4 linked regions of the Homo sapiens genome follow. The protein of the gene in region 3 purifies or fractionates together with the protein of the main gene of each other region. This does not show direct contact. Each region holds a gene or a part of one and is shown on either strand. Other genes may lie near its edges. The genes, in order: YLPM1, CENPF, ACER3 and RBM6.

Region 1 (4,982 bases), on a different chromosome or scaffold from region 3:
TCTTGTTGCCCAGGCTGGGGTGCAATGGCACGATCTCGGCTCACTGCAACCTCTGCCTCCCGGGTTCAAACAATTCTCCTGCCTCAGCCTGCCTCAGCTACTCCCAGGAGTAGCTGGGATTACAGGCGCCTGCCACCACGCTTGGCTAATTTTTGTATTTTTAGTAGAGACGAGGTTTCACCATGTTGGCTAGGCTGGTCTCGAACTCCTGACCCCAGGTGATCTGCCTGTCTCAGCCTCCCAAAGTGCTGGGGTTACAGGTGTGAGTCAGAGTGCCCGGCCATTTTTTTTTGTATTTTTAGTACAGAAGAGGTTTCACCATCTTGGCCAGGCTGGTCTTGAACTCCTGACCTCGTGATCCACCTGCTACGGCCTCCCAAAGTGCTGGGATTACAGGCGTAAGCTGCCACGCCGGGCCTGTAAAGTGATATTTAAATGAACTCTAAAGAATAAGTAGGAGGACTGGGTGCTCACACCTGTAATCCCAGTTCTTTGGGCTCATTAGAGGCCGGGAGTTCAAGGCCAGCCTGGGCAACAAAGTGAGACACCCCCCCCCCCGCCCCCCGCCCACAAAAAGTTTAAAAAACTAGCCAGGTGGCCGGGCGCAGTGGCTCACGCCTGTAATCCCAGCACTTTGGGAGGCCTAGGCGGGCAGATCACGAGGTCAGAAGATCAAGACCATCCTGGCTAACATGGTGAAACCCCATCTCTACTAAAAATACAAAAAATTAGCCGGGCGTGGTGGTGGGCGCCTGTAGTCCCAACTTCTCAGGAAGCTGAGGCAGGAGAATGGTGTGAACCCGGGAGGCGGAGCTTGCAGTGAGCCGAGATCGCGCCACTGCACTCCAGCCTGGGCGACAGAGTGAGACTCCGACTCAAAAAAAAAAAAAACCTAGCCAGGCATGGTGTTGCATGCCTGTAGTGCCGGCTACTTGCGGGTGGCTGAGGTGGGAGGATTGTTTAAGCCCAGGAGTTCTCGTGCCACTGCACTCTAGCCTGGGCAACAGAGTGAGACCTAAAAAAAAAAAAAATGAGTAGGCCAGGTGCAGTGGCTGATGCCTGTAATCTCAGCACTTTGGGAGGCCAAGGCAGGCGGATCACTTGAAGTCAGGAGTTCAAGACCAGCCTGGCCAACATGGTGAAATTCTGTCTCTACTACAAATACAAAAAATTAGCTGGGTGTGGTGGTGCACGCTTTTAATCTCAGCTACTTGGGAGGCTGAGGTGGGAGGATCACTTGAACCCAGGAGGCAGAGGTTGCAGTGAGCCAAGATTGCCCCACTGCTCTCTAGCCTGGGCGACAGAGTGGGACTCCATCTCAGTTAAAAAAAAAGAAAAAGAGTAGAAATTAACCAGAAGTTAGAATTCAAAGAATTAAGTTCAATAAGGCTCACTGAAAGCTCAGGGTGAGGATGGTAGGTATGAACTAGATCAGGGAAGGCCTGTAAGGACTTCATTCTAAGGGCAGTTGGAAGCCATTGAAGGATTTTACATAGGTGAATGTGACAGATTGGCATTTTTGAAAGCTCACTCTGCTTGCAGTGTGGAGAGCAGAATTAAAAGGAGCAAGAGTGATTTAGAGAGAATAGTTATTGAAGTAATCCAGGCAAGAGATAATAGTGGTTTAGACTTTGATGGTATTAGTTGAGATGGAGAGAAGTGGGAAGAGTGGAGAAATATTTAGCTGCTAGAATTCACTTTGAGGTTGAGTAGTTATGGAGAGGGAGGCATCAAGAATGATTCTTAGGTTTCTGGGCTGGGCCGTAGGGTGGATGGTGGTCAAATTTACTAAAACAGAAAAACCTAAAGGAGGAGGAGGAAGAACATTTCTGGGGGTGAGGAGAAAATCATGAGTTAGGTTTCAGACATACTGAGTTTGGGGTTCTTGAGACATAGATTCCAAATGGAGATGTCCACTTGGAAGTTAGATATAGCTCTGGAGTCTAGATGTAAGATCTGGGAGACATAGATTTATAAGTCATCAGCATAAAAATGGTATTTGAAGACACAGAAATAGATGAAGCCTCTCAAGGAATGTGTGTAGAGTAAGAACTGAGGTTAAAGGACATTAAGCCTAGCTCCACAAATAGCAGTATCTAAGGGAACCAATGAAAGAATGGCCAAATAGGTATTCATATTAGGTTGGTGCAAAAGTAATTGCAGTTTTTGCTATTACTTTTAATGGCAAAACCACAGTTACTTTGGCACCAGTGTGATAGGTGGAAAATCAAGATAGTGGATAGTGCGTTGCCATGAACGTCAAGGAACAGACTCTAGGAGGAGGGAGTCGTCAGCTGTGTGAAGTACTGCTGAGACGTCAAGCAAGATAAAGACTGCGAGTTATCTTTTGCACCTACTGACATGTAGATTATTGTTGACCTTGGCAGGAGCAGTTTCATAGTGACTGAAGCCATATTGCATTGATTTGAGGAGTGATGGAAGGTGAGGAAATGGGGATGGTGAGTACAGACAACTCTTTCAAGAAGTTTGACTGAAGGAGAGAGAGAATGAGGGAAGGAGCTGGAGGAATAGATGAAGTAAATGAGCATTTAAAATAAAAATAGGTGGGGACTAAGCTTATCTGGTGACCCTGATTCTTACAGTAGAATGTGAATCTCAAAAATATTTAAGCCTATTTTAAATAAATTTCTAAAATGGAAACCCAATTCATTATTTTACCAGGTGTCCTCCCTGCCCCCTGCTTTAGAATATAAGACATAGAACATTGTCTTATAGGCATTTATGATAACCTGGATAGGGAAGGTAATCTTCTAAAATTAATCTTTAAAACATTACACACAAACACTCACCTCCTTTATAGTTCTCCACTTGGAAAATCATTTAGTATCTAGTTCATTACTAGCAGCAGTGGTCAGTAAGTGCTTCCTGAGTAAATTAAAATCAACATCTTTCTTTTTTTTTTTTTTTTCTCAGAGAGATGGGATCTTGCCATGTTGCCCAGGCTGGTCTGAATTCCTGGGCTCAAGCGATATTCGTGCCTCGGCAGCATCTTTCTTAATAACAGTATTTGTGACAAATAGTTCTATATTCTTAATTTTTTTTTTTTTTTTGAGATGGAGTCTCGCTCTCACCCAGGCTGAAGTGCAGTGGCGCGAGGATCTGGGCTCACTGCAACCTCCGCCTCCCAGGTTCAAGCGATTCTCCTGCCTCAGCCTCCCGAGTAGCTGGGATTACAGGCATGTGCCACCACACCCAGCTAAGTTTTGTATTTTTAGTAGAGACAGGGTTTCACCATGTTGGTCAGGCTGGTCTCGAACTCCTCACCTTGTGATCCGCCCGCCTTGGCCTCCCAAAGTGCTGGGATTACAGATGTGAGCCACCGCACCCAGCCAATAGTTCTACATTCTTTATGTTTGAAATCCCTTCATTCAATCTCGTTTTAAATGTGACCTATATTATGATTTCCCTCTACCTATAAAACAACATCCCATATGAAATGGAGTTATCTGATATGATGGGACATTCAGAAGAGCTGGCATCATTAGCAAGTTCAGGCATTTTTTTTCTTTCTAAAATAGGGATGATCACACTTCTCTTAGGGTCAGTAAGGACATTTGTGAGTGATATCATTATTATTTATTTGCAGAGCTTCAAAAATGTGCTGAAGCCTACCATAGGATTGAATTAGATCTGGTTACTACTTATAGGGTTCATATTAAATAGAAATTGACCTACAAGGCGGCCGGGCACGGTGGCTCACGCCTGTAATCCCAGCACTTTGGGAGGCTGAGGTGGGCGGATCACAAGGTCAGGAGATCGAGACCATCCTGGCTAACATGGTGAAACCCCGTCTCTACTAAAAAATATAAAAAATTAGCCGGGCGTGGTGGCGGGCGCCTGTAGTCCCAACTACTCAGGAGGCTGAGGCAGGAGAATGGCGTGAACTCGGGAGGCGGAGCTTGCAGTGAGCCGAGATCGCGCCACTGCGCTCCAGCCTGGGCGACAGAGCGAGACTCCATCTCAAGAAAAAAAAAAGAGAAATTGACCTACAAGGCATACTGTCAGTGAATCAACAAGTACTTCAGCCCTTAACAAGTTCTTAACCCTGGTCTGGATCTAAGACAAAGCATGAGAATAGGTGATGAAGAAGCTGATAAAGAATCTGGACCTGTACAGTTTTCATTCTGTACAGTCTTCATATCTGTAGCATTGGCTTAGTTTGTGAAAGATAGTTTGCATCTTTGTATCTTTTAATAATGCTTTCAAAGCAACTTTAAAAAAGGAAACTTTTAACTTCTACTTGAAAGAGAATGTACTAATTTTTTTAAAACTGAAGGATAAGTCTGTTGATGTTTTCAGTATTAAAATAATGGAAGGAAGTGTTTTAATGCTACATTATTATTATTATTGGCTTTGGCTTTCATGGTCAGTGTGCTGTTTTCTTTCTTTTTTTTTTTTTTTTTTTTTTTTTTTGAGACAGAGTCTTTCTCTGTTGCCCAGGCTGGAGTGCAATGGCACGATCTCGGCTCACTGCAACCTCCGCCTCCCAGGTTCAGGGGATTCTCCTGCCTCACCCTCCGGAGTAGCTGAGATTATAGGTGTGTGCCACCACACCCTACTAATTTTTGTATTTTTAGTAGAGGCGAGGTTTCACCGTGTTGGCCAGGCTGGTCTCGAACTCCTGACCTCAGGTGACCTGCCCGCCTAGACCTCCCAAAGTACTGGGATTACAGGCATGAGCCACTGTGCCTGGCCAAGTGTGCTGTTTTCTTACGTTGAATAGTAAAAGTACAGATACTCTTTGACTTACAGTGGGGTTACATCTCAATAAACCCATTGTAAGTTGAGGATAATGTAAGTTGAACATTTAATACACCTAGCCTACTGAATACCATAGTTTAGCCTAGCTATTAAATGTGCTCAGAAAGTTTACATTAGGCAAAGTCATCTGGCCACACAGTACACAGTAGAGTATTGGTTTTTTTCTTGTTTTGTTTTGTTTTCTTTGAGATGGAGTCAGT
Region 2 (4,982 bases), on a different chromosome or scaffold from region 3:
ACAAATGGTAATATGTAAATTTTTAATCTCTCCCACTTTTCAGACTATTTTTGATGTTATGGCATTATCGTCATGAAACTAAATACAGCAGATTCTTTATGTATTACTAAACAGTTTTCTCTCTAACAATTTACTGTGGTACAAAAATATGATTTGGTATAAGTCATTTAAAAGGGCTTTTAAAAAATTGAATACATATTTGTTTAATTGCTTGTAACTTTGTCCTTTCTAGCCTGCTAGCTTAATTAATAATGCTATATAGTGTATGCATGTCACTTGATTTCCTCTGTCTATCTCTGTGAGGTAGAGAAGGCAGGTCATGGTGAGGTGATGGCAGGTGTAGGTGCAACAGCAGATCCCCAGTTTACAGATGAGAGGAAAGTGAGGCTCAAATATGTAATTTATCCAATAATGTACAGTAAGTGCTGGATTGGGGATTAAGTCCTTGGACTGGGAATCTGGTTATGAAACTTTACTGCCTTATTAAAGAGTATCATAAATGCTGAAGGTGGAAGCTGAGCATTTTGTTAGCCTCTTATTTAATAATTACAAAGAGATTTCATATTTAGGCTACCTGAATATTCTTAGCAAGGGAAAAATATGAAATTTAAATACATTACAAATTGTAATTGAGCCGAAGGGTTTGTCTTCAAGATAAATGCCTAACCCCAGTGTCTTGCCCATAGGGGCCACTTACTGAACGTATAAGTATGTTGAACATTTGAATGAAGAGAGAAAGATGTAGTGGGAAATTCACCACTTTAAGAGATGTGTTTAGCAGAGGCCACGCATCAGTTTCTAAAAAGTAATAACTAAATCTATTCTATTTTGATTCTTTTTGAAAAATAAAATGCATGCTTGTTATGTATTATAATTACAGGCTATTCAAGGCCGAAATGAGAGCTGTGACATATCAAAAGAACATACTTCAGAAACTACAGAAAGAACACCAAAGCATGATGTTCATCAGATTTGTGATAAAGATGCTCAGCAGGACCTCAATCTAGACATTGAGAAAATAACTGAGACTGGTGCAGTGAAACCCACAGGAGAGTGCTCTGGGGAACAGTCCCCAGATACCAATTATGAGCCTCCAGGGGAAGATAAAACCCAGGGCTCTTCAGAATGCATTTCTGAATTGTCATTTTCTGGTCCTAATGCTTTGGTACCTATGGATTTCCTGGGGAATCAGGAAGATATCCATAATCTTCAACTGCGGGTAAAAGAGACATCAAATGAGAATTTGAGATTACTTCATGTGATAGAGGACCGTGACAGAAAAGTTGAAAGTTTGCTAAATGAAATGAAAGAATTAGACTCAAAACTCCATTTACAGGAGGTACAACTAATGACCAAAATTGAAGCATGCATAGAATTGGAAAAAATAGTTGGGGAACTTAAGAAAGAAAACTCAGATTTAAGTGAAAAATTGGAATATTTTTCTTGTGATCACCAGGAGTTACTCCAGAGAGTAGAAACTTCTGAAGGCCTCAATTCTGATTTAGAAATGCATGCAGATAAATCATCACGTGAAGATATTGGAGATAATGTGGCCAAGGTGAATGACAGCTGGAAGGAGAGATTTCTTGATGTGGAAAATGAGCTGAGTAGGATCAGATCGGAGAAAGCTAGCATTGAGCATGAAGCCCTCTACCTGGAGGCTGACTTAGAGGTAGTTCAAACAGAGAAGCTATGTTTAGAAAAAGACAATGAAAATAAGCAGAAGGTTATTGTCTGCCTTGAAGAAGAACTCTCAGTGGTCACAAGTGAGAGAAACCAGCTTCGTGGAGAATTAGATACTATGTCAAAAAAAACCACGGCACTGGATCAGTTGTCTGAAAAAATGAAGGAGAAAACACAAGAGCTTGAGTCTCATCAAAGTGAGTGTCTCCATTGCATTCAGGTGGCAGAGGCAGAGGTGAAGGAAAAGACGGAACTCCTTCAGACTTTGTCCTCTGATGTGAGTGAGCTGTTAAAAGACAAAACTCATCTCCAGGAAAAGCTGCAGAGTTTGGAAAAGGACTCACAGGCACTGTCTTTGACAAAATGTGAGCTGGAAAACCAAATTGCACAACTGAATAAAGAGAAAGAATTGCTTGTCAAGGAATCTGAAAGCCTGCAGGCCAGACTGAGTGAATCAGATTATGAAAAGCTGAATGTCTCCAAGGCCTTGGAGGCCGCACTGGTGGAGAAAGGTGAGTTCGCATTGAGGCTGAGCTCAACACAGGAGGAAGTGCATCAGCTGAGAAGAGGCATCGAGAAACTGAGAGTTCGCATTGAGGCCGATGAAAAGAAGCAGCTGCACATCGCAGAGAAACTGAAAGAACGCGAGCGGGAGAATGATTCACTTAAGGATAAAGTTGAGAACCTTGAAAGGGAATTGCAGATGTCAGAAGAAAACCAGGAGCTAGTGATTCTTGATGCCGAGAATTCCAAAGCAGAAGTAGAGACTCTAAAAACACAAATAGAAGAGATGGCCAGAAGCCTGAAAGTTTTTGAATTAGACCTTGTCACGTTAAGGTCTGAAAAAGAAAATCTGACAAAACAAATACAAGAAAAACAAGGTCAGTTGTCAGAACTAGACAAGTTACTCTCTTCATTTAAAAGTCTGTTAGAAGAAAAGGAGCAAGCAGAGATACAGATCAAAGAAGAATCTAAAACTGCAGTGGAGATGCTTCAGAATCAGTTAAAGGAGCTAAATGAGGCAGTAGCAGCCTTGTGTGGTGACCAAGAAATTATGAAGGCCACAGAACAGAGTCTAGACCCACCAATAGAGGAAGAGCATCAGCTGAGAAATAGCATTGAAAAGCTGAGAGCCCGCCTAGAAGCTGATGAAAAGAAGCAGCTCTGTGTCTTACAACAACTGAAGGAAAGTGAGCATCATGCAGATTTACTTAAGGGTAGAGTGGAGAACCTTGAAAGAGAGCTAGAGATAGCCAGGACAAACCAAGAGCATGCAGCTCTTGAGGCAGAGAATTCCAAAGGAGAGGTAGAGACCCTAAAAGCAAAAATAGAAGGGATGACCCAAAGTCTGAGAGGTCTGGAATTAGATGTTGTTACTATAAGGTCAGAAAAAGAAAATCTGACAAATGAATTACAAAAAGAGCAAGAGCGAATATCTGAATTAGAAATAATAAATTCATCATTTGAAAATATTTTGCAAGAAAAAGAGCAAGAGAAAGTACAGATGAAAGAAAAATCAAGCACTGCCATGGAGATGCTTCAAACACAATTAAAAGAGCTCAATGAGAGAGTGGCAGCCCTGCATAATGACCAAGAAGCCTGTAAGGCCAAAGAGCAGAATCTTAGTAGTCAAGTAGAGTGTCTTGAACTTGAGAAGGCTCAGTTGCTACAAGGCCTTGATGAGGCCAAAAATAATTATATTGTTTTGCAATCTTCAGTGAATGGCCTCATTCAAGAAGTAGAAGATGGCAAGCAGAAACTGGAGAAGAAGGATGAAGAAATCAGTAGACTGAAAAATCAAATTCAAGACCAAGAGCAGCTTGTCTCTAAACTGTCCCAGGTGGAAGGAGAGCACCAACTTTGGAAGGAGCAAAACTTAGAACTGAGAAATCTGACAGTGGAATTGGAGCAGAAGATCCAAGTGCTACAATCCAAAAATGCCTCTTTGCAGGACACATTAGAAGTGCTGCAGAGTTCTTACAAGAATCTAGAGAATGAGCTTGAATTGACAAAAATGGACAAAATGTCCTTTGTTGAAAAAGTAAGTGGCTATATCTGTTTATGTTTAAATATGTAGTCATGAGGCAGGAAACCATATTTTCTTCTAGACACTGTGAATTGTATTTACTTCTAGACCGTGTCTGCTATATTGGACCAAACTTTGTAAAGGCTTTATGTTTACTGGGTCTTGAATTGCAGAAACACTGAGTTGGCTCTGGCAGTAGTCACTATTCTGGCTGATTCTTTGGGACATGTTCATGGATTGGACCAGGTTTTTAATGTGGCACCTACATAAGGGCAAAGCTTTGGTTTATGCACAGTTCCTTGTTCTAGTTATATTTCCTTTTCTTAGAGTACATCAGAATAGTGGCCTCCCCATATCCAGTTGAGACTCACTGCTATAGAGAGTATAACAGACATTATCTAGGATCGGAAAGGATCTGCCTGCCTTACTGTGTCTTTTTTGCCTTCAGGACAAAGCACTTTTAAAGATACTGATAGATTTGTAACCAACAGAGCACTCATGGCTTCTAGGGTGTGTTTTGGGGATTTCGTGCTTTCAGTCCCTCTTATACCTTCTCTTTGTGCAGTCTTCTATTGTATTAGTTGATGATTAAAGGGAAGATCTGCCATCAAGAGGCTCAATTATTAAAGAAAAATTAAGTTTTGGCCCAGTGAGCTTACTTAGTGATCTAGGAAAGTGATTTTGTCACACTTAATTCTTGCTGAACAAATATTAAAGAATAAAAGGACTATCCACAAAATTCATCTCCACCCTGTATTTTCTAAGAATTTTGGGGTTTTGGATACCTTGCAAGAGATGGCAGTCAGTATAGAGATGATGAGACAAACCATAGCAAGCTGTTTCACTTCAAGGGACAAATGCAAACAATAGCTTTTTAACTGTTTTTCAGTAATCATAAGCATGTTTATTGCAGATTAGTATGGCACTGGGGGATTAGTAGAGATCCAAGAAGTGATAAGATACTGCCTGATAATGATAATCTTTGATGTTTAAGTTTAATTCAAATTAATACCTTTGTGAAAGATTTTAAGACTTAGGGATATTATCTTTCCTTGTCATTCCTTCCCTTATTACTATTCTTCTATTAAATCTTTTCTGGGAAGAAAAGGTAAGCTTACTAGTAGGTTTTGAGAATGTTGAGTTGAGTGGATTAGTAAAGGCGGGATTAGCCAGCTTCCATTTTATGATTGAAGGCTAAAATAAATGGCATGAATATGTTGTATCAGAGTGGTCGATCTGATCAAAACAGACCACCAAAAAGCAGATTCTAATG
Region 3 (4,982 bases):
GGGAAAAGTGCTGGGTTGCTTTCAGGCTCAAACCAGTTACAGCTTTCATCAAGCTAATTTGCTGACTGGGCAGGACGGCTTTTCACAGTGGAAGTGAAGCAATATAGATCACTTTTTCAGCTTCACTAGATTTTAATGCTTCTATTTATTTATCTTTAGCTCTGGGTGATGGTTTTACAGTTGTAAATACAACCGAGCTCTAAATTGTTTATCCAGTCACCTCAGGGTTTTATGTATTCAGCCAAATGTTGGAAAACCGTTTAGATTGTGGAGCACACTGGCTCCACCTACTGTCCTATGAGAAAACACTTTCCTACTGTATCTTCATTCACAATTCTCTTAAATTGTACCCTTTTGCACATGTGCTTTTCCCCAAACTTTGTTTCTCATATTTTTGATATTTGAGTTTCCGTTTACCTTGCTGAAAGATAAATTTACCTATTAAGAAATCGTGAAATTACTGTAACGTCAGTCTTGCCTGTAATTTATATTATAAGGAGAATGTGTTTGGGGGTATAAAAATATCATAGTTTTCAAAAATCTAAATCTATATCAAAATAAGACTTTCCTTCCAGAAAAAAAGTGTTCAAAATATTTTAGTACACTATTGTGTGGTGTATGAATGAATATCTCGCTTTTATTTCCAGAACAGAAATTTTTTAATTGAATTTTCTGGAAGCAGTTAACCTCAAATCCAATTAAACTCTTAGTAGAAGTAATTTTATTTTCTACCATTCATCTTTTTAATACTTTAGTTTTCAGTTATAAAGACAATATAGCAACATTGTAGAAAATATGGAAAAAGGGGGAAATCCATTATTTAACCTGCTTAAATGTTTATTCTTAATTTCTTGGTTAGGGAACCCTCACCAACTATAGTTTTACCAAGTCATGATTGATGAAAACATAGTTTTATAATTGTGGTCGTTATCAATTTATTACTTCTTAGCTCTGAGTTCAACATTCATTGCATGGTTGGTGAAAATAGACCTGAGCCCTTTGAATATTTTCCTTTGACAACTGGCTGGATGTTAAATTTTGTCAATAGAGGGCGCCAGAGAGACATTGCAAGAGGAAGAGATTTTCCTTCCTGGTTCTGGTGTGCTGGCTTGGCAACTTCTCTGGCGCCAGCTCTTGCAGTCCAAGTGGCTTAATAGCTTCTGGCTCCTACAGTGCTGAGGCTTCCCCAGTGCCCACCTCTTAAAGCTTGGTCAGCTTCTGGTGCCAGGCTATTGCAGAACGTGGCTGTCAGCAGCACCTAGTGGTCAGTAGCATCCCCTGCCCACCTACCTCTCCGCTCTATGGGATTAGCTTTAGCTGGCACCCTAGAGGGCAGAGTTCTGACAAGTTCTGAACAGTAGATTTCAGCAAGCTCTATGGGTATAGCACCACAGCAACTTCTCGGCTATTCAGTGAACCATGGTCATGCCTTCTCCAGCAAGGTCTGCATCTCAGCCTTGGGGAAACCTCTTTTTTAATGCTCTATCTCAGCCTTAGGGGTAGTGGCTGCTCCTTACCTCTGATATTCCTTTATTCTGTAGAGTTTTCTTTACTTGTGACTAGCCTGTCTCTCCTTACTCTTATAAGTTAATAATTCTCTATTCAAATTACTCTGGTTTATCTTTTCTGATTGAACTCTTGACTTTTTTTTTTTTTTTTTTAACAGACAGAGTCTTGCTCTGTCACCCAGGCTGCAGTGCAGTGGTGTGATCATGGCTCACTGCAGCCTCAGCCTCCCAGGCTCAAGCGATCCTCCCACCTCAGCCTTCTGAGCAGCTAAGACCACGGGCAAGTGCCACTATGCCTGGCTAATTTTAAAAAATTTTTTGTAGAGATGGGTTCTCCTTATGTTGCCCAGGCTGGTGTCGAACTCCTGGGCTCAAGCAATCCTCCCCCCTTGGCTTTCCAAAGTGCTGGGATTATAGCCATGATCCACAATGCCTGGGCTGAAACCATTTTTTTACCCAAAGTTTTAAGTCCACGATCATTTTATGTGCATTATTTTGCTTAGTAAAATTAAATTAGCTAACATGTATAGCTATATAAGCTAAATTGCTTATTTACAAAGCAATTACATATCTATTATTCTTTAAATCAGCTTTTTAAAAGTAACCTTTTATTCTTTTTTCCTGACTTTACAGTCTTACCTGATTTATCAATTTTTTGCCTTTGTGGTTAATCCTTTTCATGTCCTACTGAAAAAAATCATTGCCTCTCCAAGGTGATAAAGATGTTCTCCCATATTTTCTTCTGAAGGTTTTATTGTGTTACCTTTTACATTTAGATCTATAGTACCTCTGGAATTTATTTTTAATTAAAACAAATTTTTAATTGTTTATCGAATTGGGCAGCCCTTGAACCAGAATGGGTTCAGAGAAGCTCCCATCTGGAATTTATTTTTGTGTAAGGAGTGTGAACCTGGGATCCAGATTAATTTTTTTCCTATATAAATATGCAGTTGATCCAGTATCTGTATTGAAAAGACCATCCTTTCCTTAATACACTGCAGGCTTATGTTTGTCATAAATCAGGTGCTCGTAAATGTTAGTATGTTCTTATAATCTTACCTGTTCTATTTAACCTTGTTAGTCGGCCTTGATATCTAGTAGTGTAAATACTCCAGGTTTGTTGTTACTCAAGATTGTCTTGGCTCTTCTTAGCCTTTTGTATTTCATATAAAGTTAAGAGTCAGCTTTTTAATTTGTACCCAAAACCATTTGGGATTTTTATTAGTATTATGTCTTATATGTCTTTGTCAGATTTATTCCTAGATATGTGATGTGTTTTGATGCTATTGCAAATTATATCTGTAACACCAAAACTGCAGTTACGTGTTCAGATTGTCAATCTGACCCAGGAATCCTTCAGATATTTGAAGATAGCAGTCATTCCATTCCTTATATGTTGTGTTTTATTTATTTAGTATATTATGCCTTTATATGAGTCTCTACTCTGAATGCTTTAGTATTTCTGTTTTGTTTAGGGTGCCACAAATAGATAAACATCCCAATGAGAAGCTGAATTAAAGCAGAGAAAAGTAGGAGGACCACTATCTAGCTCTTTCCATTTTTACCTCTGAATACTAGTATATTGAGATTTTCCTCCCAGAATAGCCTACTGTCATCTTTCTGTCTTTGGAACTTTCTGTCAGGGTTGTCCTTACTCTCTCTAACAAGCCTATATTTGTGGTTTGCAATTCTTCATTCTAATTTGTAAAACTTGTGCATTGTCCTTAAATGAGTTTCATATAGTTTGTAAGACCCTCCTGCACTCCCTGCCTCCAGGTAATTTGAAATGTATTACTGACTTCCATACTATTGACATTTCAGCTAAATTTAATACTACCTGTACGTTTGGGCATGTTTCCATTGCTTTATCTTAGTCATCAGTAAAGATTTTCATTAGTTTGAATCTTAGGGCACTCCTGAATGGTAAAATATTCAACATCTCCTACAGGTTTACTTAAAACTATTGATAACTGCTGTTTGGATATATAACTCTCAATCTGTCTGGCTCCCCACCTTACATTTTCATACTCTACCTAGGCAAATTACTTTATTCTTTGTACAGTTTGGAAGTCATTTAATATATTCTGAATAAAATACTCTGATATAATTTTTAAAACATTATAATTAATAAGCACCCTCTGTGTGAACATTGTGCTAGCACATCTAGTGAGAGGAACATTAGCTATAAGGACAGATAGACCTGGAATAAAATCTTGCCACCACCATTTGCTTATTGTGAGAACTTGGAATTGTATACTGTAAATTGTATAATTTCTTAACCCGCTTTTACTGTTTATTTTTAATAGGGACAACAATACTTCACAAGATTGGTTGTGAGAAGCAAGTAAGATAGCACATGTAAAATATAAAGTTCAGTACCTGGTACTTAATAGGCTCAGCATATTTTTGTTCCTTTCTCTCCTTTCAGGGTCTAGCTCAAATCTTAATACATCTATGAAACTATTCCCAACGATCTTACTCCCTCTCCTAAATGGTTTCTGTATTAATTTTTATTTTATCAAAGCAATATATAAAAAAAATTTAAAAATCTAGATAATGCTAAACAACTTTAACAAAACCAGAAGGCAATGTTCTTTCCCAACCCTTCTTTGCTTCCCACTGTCTAATTCTACTCCCCAGAAGCAAAATTAAAAAAAAAAACAAACCCAGCTTGATTGAGGTATAATTGAGATACAAAACAGACTGCACCTATTTAAAGTGTACAAATTAAAATTTGACATTGGCTTATACCTGTGAAACCATCAAAAACAAGATAGTAACATATCCTTCACCTCCAAGTTTTATTTTATTCCTTTGTAAGCCCTCCTTCTGCATTGAACTTCCACCATTTCTCCCCCAGCAACCACTGATCTTCTTTCTGTCACTGTAGATTAGTTTGCATTTTCTAGCCTTTTATATGATCTGTTTTAGTCCTTGTCTGCTAATTCTAACATCTGTTCTGGGTTGGTTCCAGTTGATTATTTTCCTCATGGATCATGTTTCTTGCTTTTTTTGTATGCCTGGTAATCTTTGATTGAATACCTGACATCGTGCTTTTTTTAACTTTGTTAGGTGCTGAATAACTTTTGTATTAGTATAAATAGTCTTGAATTTTGTTCTGGATTTCAGTGAAGCTACTTGGAAACAGTTTGATCCTTTTGGATTTTGCTTTTGTGATTTGTTAGGTGTGTCTGGAACAGGGTTCAGTCTAGTACTAGCTATTCCCTATTACTGAGGCCAGGCCTTCTTGATTCCTTTATCCAATGCCCAGTGTGATACAAATTTTACCATTTCAGCTTTTGGGAGTAGGCACTGTTTCTGGCTATGTGTGTACTGGCTATGTGTGAACACCTGGTACTGTTCCCTCTAATATTTTCACCATGATTCTTTCCTGGCTTCGACTAGTTTGCTCCTACACATCTGCTAATCAGTCTTCTGCTGAATAGTTAGGGGGCCCTTTATAGATTTCCTGAG
Region 4 (4,982 bases), on a different chromosome or scaffold from region 3:
CTTACTGCAACATCCGCCTCCCGTGTTCAAGTGATTCTCCTGCCTCAGCCTTCTGAGTAGCTGGGATTACAGGCGCGTGCCACTATGCCTGGCTAATTTCATTATTTTAATATTAAAAAATACCCAAATATTTTATTTCTTTTTGTCTCTTAGCGAAGGAATACATATTTGGCTAGTAAGGAAAGCTAGCAAAATTTACATAAATGTTTATAAAAGTTGTATTGAGTTCACTAATTTATGTCTAGAATTCAGAGCTGTGCCTTGTCTGTGGCATGTTGACGCAGTTTGCTAAGCCACCTCTCAATTTTAGGGGTTACTTGGTACCAAGAAGAGTGGAGAAAGTGGTAGCATTTAGTTGTAAATAGATTGTATTTTAAATTTGTAGGGAATTAATTTTTTTATAGCTAGTATCATACACACTGTATTTTAACTAGTATTTAAACATTTTTCGTATTGTGTTTACAATTAATGAGATGCTATATGAATGTGACTTTTTTGGTTTTACTTGGTACATAGCAAATAAATCTGACCTTTAAATGTATGCATTCATAAGTATTGTTGCTCCAGTTGAAACTTCTATTAACTAGTACATTTTCCTTTTTTTACCTTTTTTCAAAATGGAGTCTCACTCTGTTGCCCATGCTGGAGTGCAGGGGTATGATCTCAGCTCACTGCAGCCTTTGCCTCCTAGGTTCAAGTGATTCTCCTCCCTTAGCCTCCTGAGTAGCTGGGACTACAGGTGTATGCCACCATGCCTGGCTAATTATTGTATTTTTTTTTTTAGTAGAGATGGCGTTTCACCATGTTGGCCAGGCTGATCTCAAACTCCTGACCTCAAGTGATCCACCTACCTCAGCCTCCCAAAGTGCTGGGACTATAAGTGTGAGCCACCGCACCTGCCATTTGGATTGGCAATCTGCAAGATTTTATTACTTAAATGCAACAGATGTTCTCATTCATTGTTCTGAAGCTTGGAGTTCCAATGAAAAATTTAGGTGGAGAACTGAGTTTAGAAAATCCATATAATGTTTAGTAAAACTAGTATTTCATAAATGCTGAATGACAGAGATTGGTCTTTAAATTAAAACAACAGTGTGATGTTGGGTATTTTTTTTCTTTCAAAATACTAAGGATTAGATCAGTGGTCAGCAAACTACAGCTGATAGCCTGTTTTTGTAAATAAAGTTTTACTGGAAAACAGCCACTCTTACTCATTTGCAGATTGTGTATGGCTGCTTTCATGCTATGATGGCAGAGTTGAATAGTTGTAACAGAGATTGTATAACCCACAAAATCCGATATGTTTACGAACTGGCTCTTCATGGAAAAAGTTTCCTGACCTCTCATCTAGATCAATGGGGTTGTACGTTACCATTTAAAAATATTTAGGTTGTAATCTATCCTCTTATTACTTGTATTTATGGGTAACTATTTTGTAAGTAAGGCTGTTTCGTATAGAATTAACGTGGTTTAGGTAAGCATTCAGAAATGTTAGGTTAATTTAGCTTTATTGTCTAACTTTTTTCAAATTTAGAACATTTGTCTTTGACTCGTTTAAACTTATTTAAAATTATATTTTCCCACCTTAATTTTAGTTTAAATGTAAGTCATTATATGCTGTTTTTTAACATCTTTGACTAGGAGGGAGACAGTTTTTGGGAACTAATTTGAACCAAAACAGATATAGGAAAATGATTTTGTTACATTTCCTTTGAACTTTTCTTTTAAAATTTGTTTTTATTTGGTTGAAAATAATTTTCATAACTACTGATATTTTATATTAGTAGAATGGTTTCTTGATTCGTCTGTATAAAATACAAATCTAAGAACCCTGCTACAGTAAGTTACTCTAAATCTATTTGATCTTAATTTAGAAGAGTAAGATAATCTTTAGGCCATGTTGGATGTGTTCTGGTCAGAAAACATGTAGATTTCATACCTCAGTCCTCATCCCATGAGTGTCTGATGAAGCTTAAATCTTCCTGCAAGAAAGACTTGAATGATTTTAAACATGAGAGACACTGTATTTAGTGGTAACATCTTAATTTTAGTGTTAAATTGTATTGCCTAAGAAGAACATCTAGGGCGGGCGTGGCGGCTCACGCCTGTAATCCCAGCACTTTGGGAGGCCGAGGCGGGTGGATCACGAGGTCAGGAGATCAAGACCATCCTGGCTAACACGGTGAAACCCCGCCTCTACAAAAAATACAAAAAAATTAGCTGGGCGTGGTAGCGGGCGCCTGTAGTCCCAGCCCCTTGGGAAGCTGAGGCAGGAGAATGGCGTGAACCCGGGAGGCGGAGCTTGCAGTGAGCCAATATCGCGCCACTGCACTCCAGCCTGGGCGACAGAGCGAGACTCCGTCTCAAAAAAAAAAAAAAGAAGAACATCTAAACTTGCTCCTCTTATGATGAACCACATAGACATAACTAGTGTTAATGGGGGTCAGTGGAAGTCATCATGTTCTGAAAATCCATTAAATGTACATCATTCTAGTGTTTAGGTTAATGCTGTTAAATTCCTGTTACTTTAAGAAAGGGTTGGCCGGGCATGGTGGCTCACGCCTGTAACCCTAACCTTGGGGAGACAGAGATGGGTGGCTCACCTGAGGTCAAGAGTTCAAGACCAGCCTGGGCAGCATGGTAAAACCCCATCTCTGCTAAAAATAAAAAAATTAGCTGGGCATGGTGGCGCATGCCTGTAATCCCAGCTACTCTGGAGGCTGAGGCATGAGAATTGCTTGAACCCAGGAGGCAGAGGCTGCAGTGAACCGAGATCATGCCATTGCACTCCAGCCTGGGCAACAGAGCGAGACTCCGTCTCAAAAAAAAAGAAAAAGAGAAAGAAAAGGTTTGGCATTGCAACTATTTCTCTTGAACTGAGTGACCCAGAATCAGTTGTCCTTTGAATTTTAGTATAGTAGCATAGTCTGAGCTCAGAAGGGCCTTATGATAGACCCTGTATGTTCTGGGAGGCAAGAATTGAGTTGGTATTAATATCTTAATGCTTTTGTTTTACTGCTGAATAACAGATGACCCTTCAGGTCTTTTCATGTTTTCCTTTTTCATGTCTCCCTGCCTAGGATCCTAGGTGCCTAATTGCCTACTTAAACTAGTTTAGGGAATCTTGGACTGAAGCCAAAACATGTAAAATGCCCTGAAGGTTAGGCAAAGGGAAGAAGTTGGGTAGTATGAAAGATTAGGTCACATCTTGTTTATCTCTTGAGTTCTATAAATTGAGAATGTAAATTTAATACTATGTCTATTTTTAAAATGTATTTTATTGCCATGAAAAAGTAGCATGAGACATTGGAATATGGAATATCAGCTTCTTCATTTGGGTCATGGGGATCATGCTTGAAGACCTAATGCTCTCTCTAGGTCTATCTCAGCATTGAGCCCCTGGATGCTGTTGCGTGGCTTAGATGACTTATACATGCTTTGTGGCATGATTCATACTACCTTCTACCTTCTGTGATACCCTTGGGTAGTTATAATAGGACCCAGGTTAGAGTGCTTCTTGGTGGAGCCACTGTAGAACTGGGATTTAGATGCAGCCAGGGCTGATGCTCAGCTGGTGAACACTGGTGTGCTTGTTCCTACTGGTGATTTACAACCAGTGTTTCTTCTTTTTGGGCCTGCATCCATTTTGATTGGGTGGTGTCCATGCTGTATCTGTAATAAAATATTTTTGAATGTTACCGCTGGATGCAGCGTGAGAAAGATACCTCCTGAAACTTACTGTAAGAAATTTACAGTGCATTGATTTTTCTGATATATAGGAATCGTCATGTTGACCTTGGAATTCTTAAGTTCCCTGGCTGTAGGAAATGGAAATTTTTGTAGTATGTCACCATTGTTAGCTTATTTGGTATTGCGGATTTTCCCTGTTGCAGGACTGGGTGAAAGCTTTTTCTGCAGCAGTCATGTTGAAAACCTTGTGTTGACTTTCCTCGTGTTCTGAAATGGGAGCATAAAAGTTTACTCCGCCACTTCGTCTTAAAATAGCAAAACTTTGCTGTTTTCTGCAGATCTAGGACCTTGTTACAGAACTCTGCCAAAAAAAAAATGTTTACAGAAGAATGTGCTGTGATTAGAGAAGAATATGCTGGTGTGTAGATTTCAAACTCTCTGGACAATATGAATAACACTGTCTTTGTTTCTACAGTGGGAGCCAAGAAGAAAGGTTTGCTCCCGGGTGGAACAGGGATTATCCTCCTCCTCCCCTTAAGAGTCATGCTCAAGAGAGACACTCTGGCAACTTTCCTGGCAGAGATTCACTTCCCTTTGATTTCCAGGGGCATTCGGGGCCTCCTTTTGCAAATGTAGAGGAGCATTCTTTCAGCTATGGAGCTAGAGACGGACCGCATGGTGACTATCGAGGAGGGGAGGGACCTGGACATGATTTCAGGGGGGGAGATTTTTCGTCTTCTGATTTCCAGAGCAGAGATTCATCACAGTTGGACTTCAGGGGTAGGGACATACATTCTGGGGATTTTCGGGATAGAGAAGGACCACCTATGGACTATAGGGGTGGAGATGGTACTTCTATGGATTATAGAGGTAGGGAGGCACCTCATATGAACTACAGAGACAGGGATGCTCACGCTGTTGACTTCAGAGGTAGGGATGCTCCTCCATCTGACTTCAGGGGCCGGGGCACTTATGATTTAGATTTTAGAGGCCGGGATGGATCCCATGCAGATTTTAGGGGAAGGGATTTATCAGATTTGGATTTTAGGGCCAGAGAACAGTCCCGTTCTGATTTTAGGAATAGAGATGTATCTGATTTGGACTTTAGAGACAAAGACGGAACACAAGTAGACTTTAGAGGCCGAGGTTCAGGTACTACTGATCTAGACTTTAGGGACAGGGATACGCCACATTCAGATTTCAGAGGTAGACACCGATCTAGGACTGATCAGGATTTTAGGGGCAGAGAGATGGGATCTTGTATGGAATTTAAAGATAGGGAGATGCCCCCT

What was found.
Region 1: the proteins of ACER3 (region 3) and YLPM1 purify together in Homo sapiens (affinity purification with mass spectrometry; one large-scale study listed by BioGRID and IntAct). This does not show direct contact.
Region 2: the proteins of ACER3 (region 3) and CENPF purify together in Homo sapiens (affinity purification with mass spectrometry; one large-scale study listed by BioGRID and IntAct). This does not show direct contact.
Region 4: the proteins of ACER3 (region 3) and RBM6 purify together in Homo sapiens (affinity purification with mass spectrometry; one large-scale study listed by BioGRID and IntAct). This does not show direct contact.

The regions. Positions count from the first base shown.
Region 1 is NC_000014.9:74,769,305-74,774,286, forward strand, and holds part of YLPM1 (YLP motif-containing protein 1), read left to right. Parts: intron 1-2,387; exon of another isoform or gene 2,388-2,442; intron 2,443-4,982. UniProt on the Homo sapiens protein: Plays a role in the reduction of telomerase activity during differentiation of embryonic stem cells by binding to the core promoter of TERT and controlling its down-regulation.
Region 2 is NC_000001.11:214,643,677-214,648,658, forward strand, and holds part of CENPF (centromere protein F), read left to right. Parts: intron 1-880; coding exon 881-3,724; intron 3,725-4,982. UniProt on the Homo sapiens protein: Required for kinetochore function and chromosome segregation in mitosis. Required for kinetochore localization of dynein, LIS1, NDE1 and NDEL1.
Region 3 is NC_000011.10:76,918,992-76,923,973, forward strand, and holds part of ACER3 (alkaline ceramidase 3), read left to right. Parts: intron 1-1,115; exon of another isoform or gene 1,116-1,264; intron 1,265-4,982. UniProt on the Homo sapiens protein: Endoplasmic reticulum and Golgi ceramidase that catalyzes the hydrolysis of unsaturated long-chain C18:1-, C20:1- and C20:4-ceramides, dihydroceramides and phytoceramides into sphingoid bases like sphingosine and free fatty acids at alkaline pH.
Region 4 is NC_000003.12:49,963,305-49,968,286, forward strand, and holds part of RBM6 (RNA-binding protein 6), read left to right. Parts: intron 1-3,893; exon of another isoform or gene 3,894-4,165; coding exon 4,166-4,982. UniProt on the Homo sapiens protein: Specifically binds poly(G) RNA homopolymers in vitro.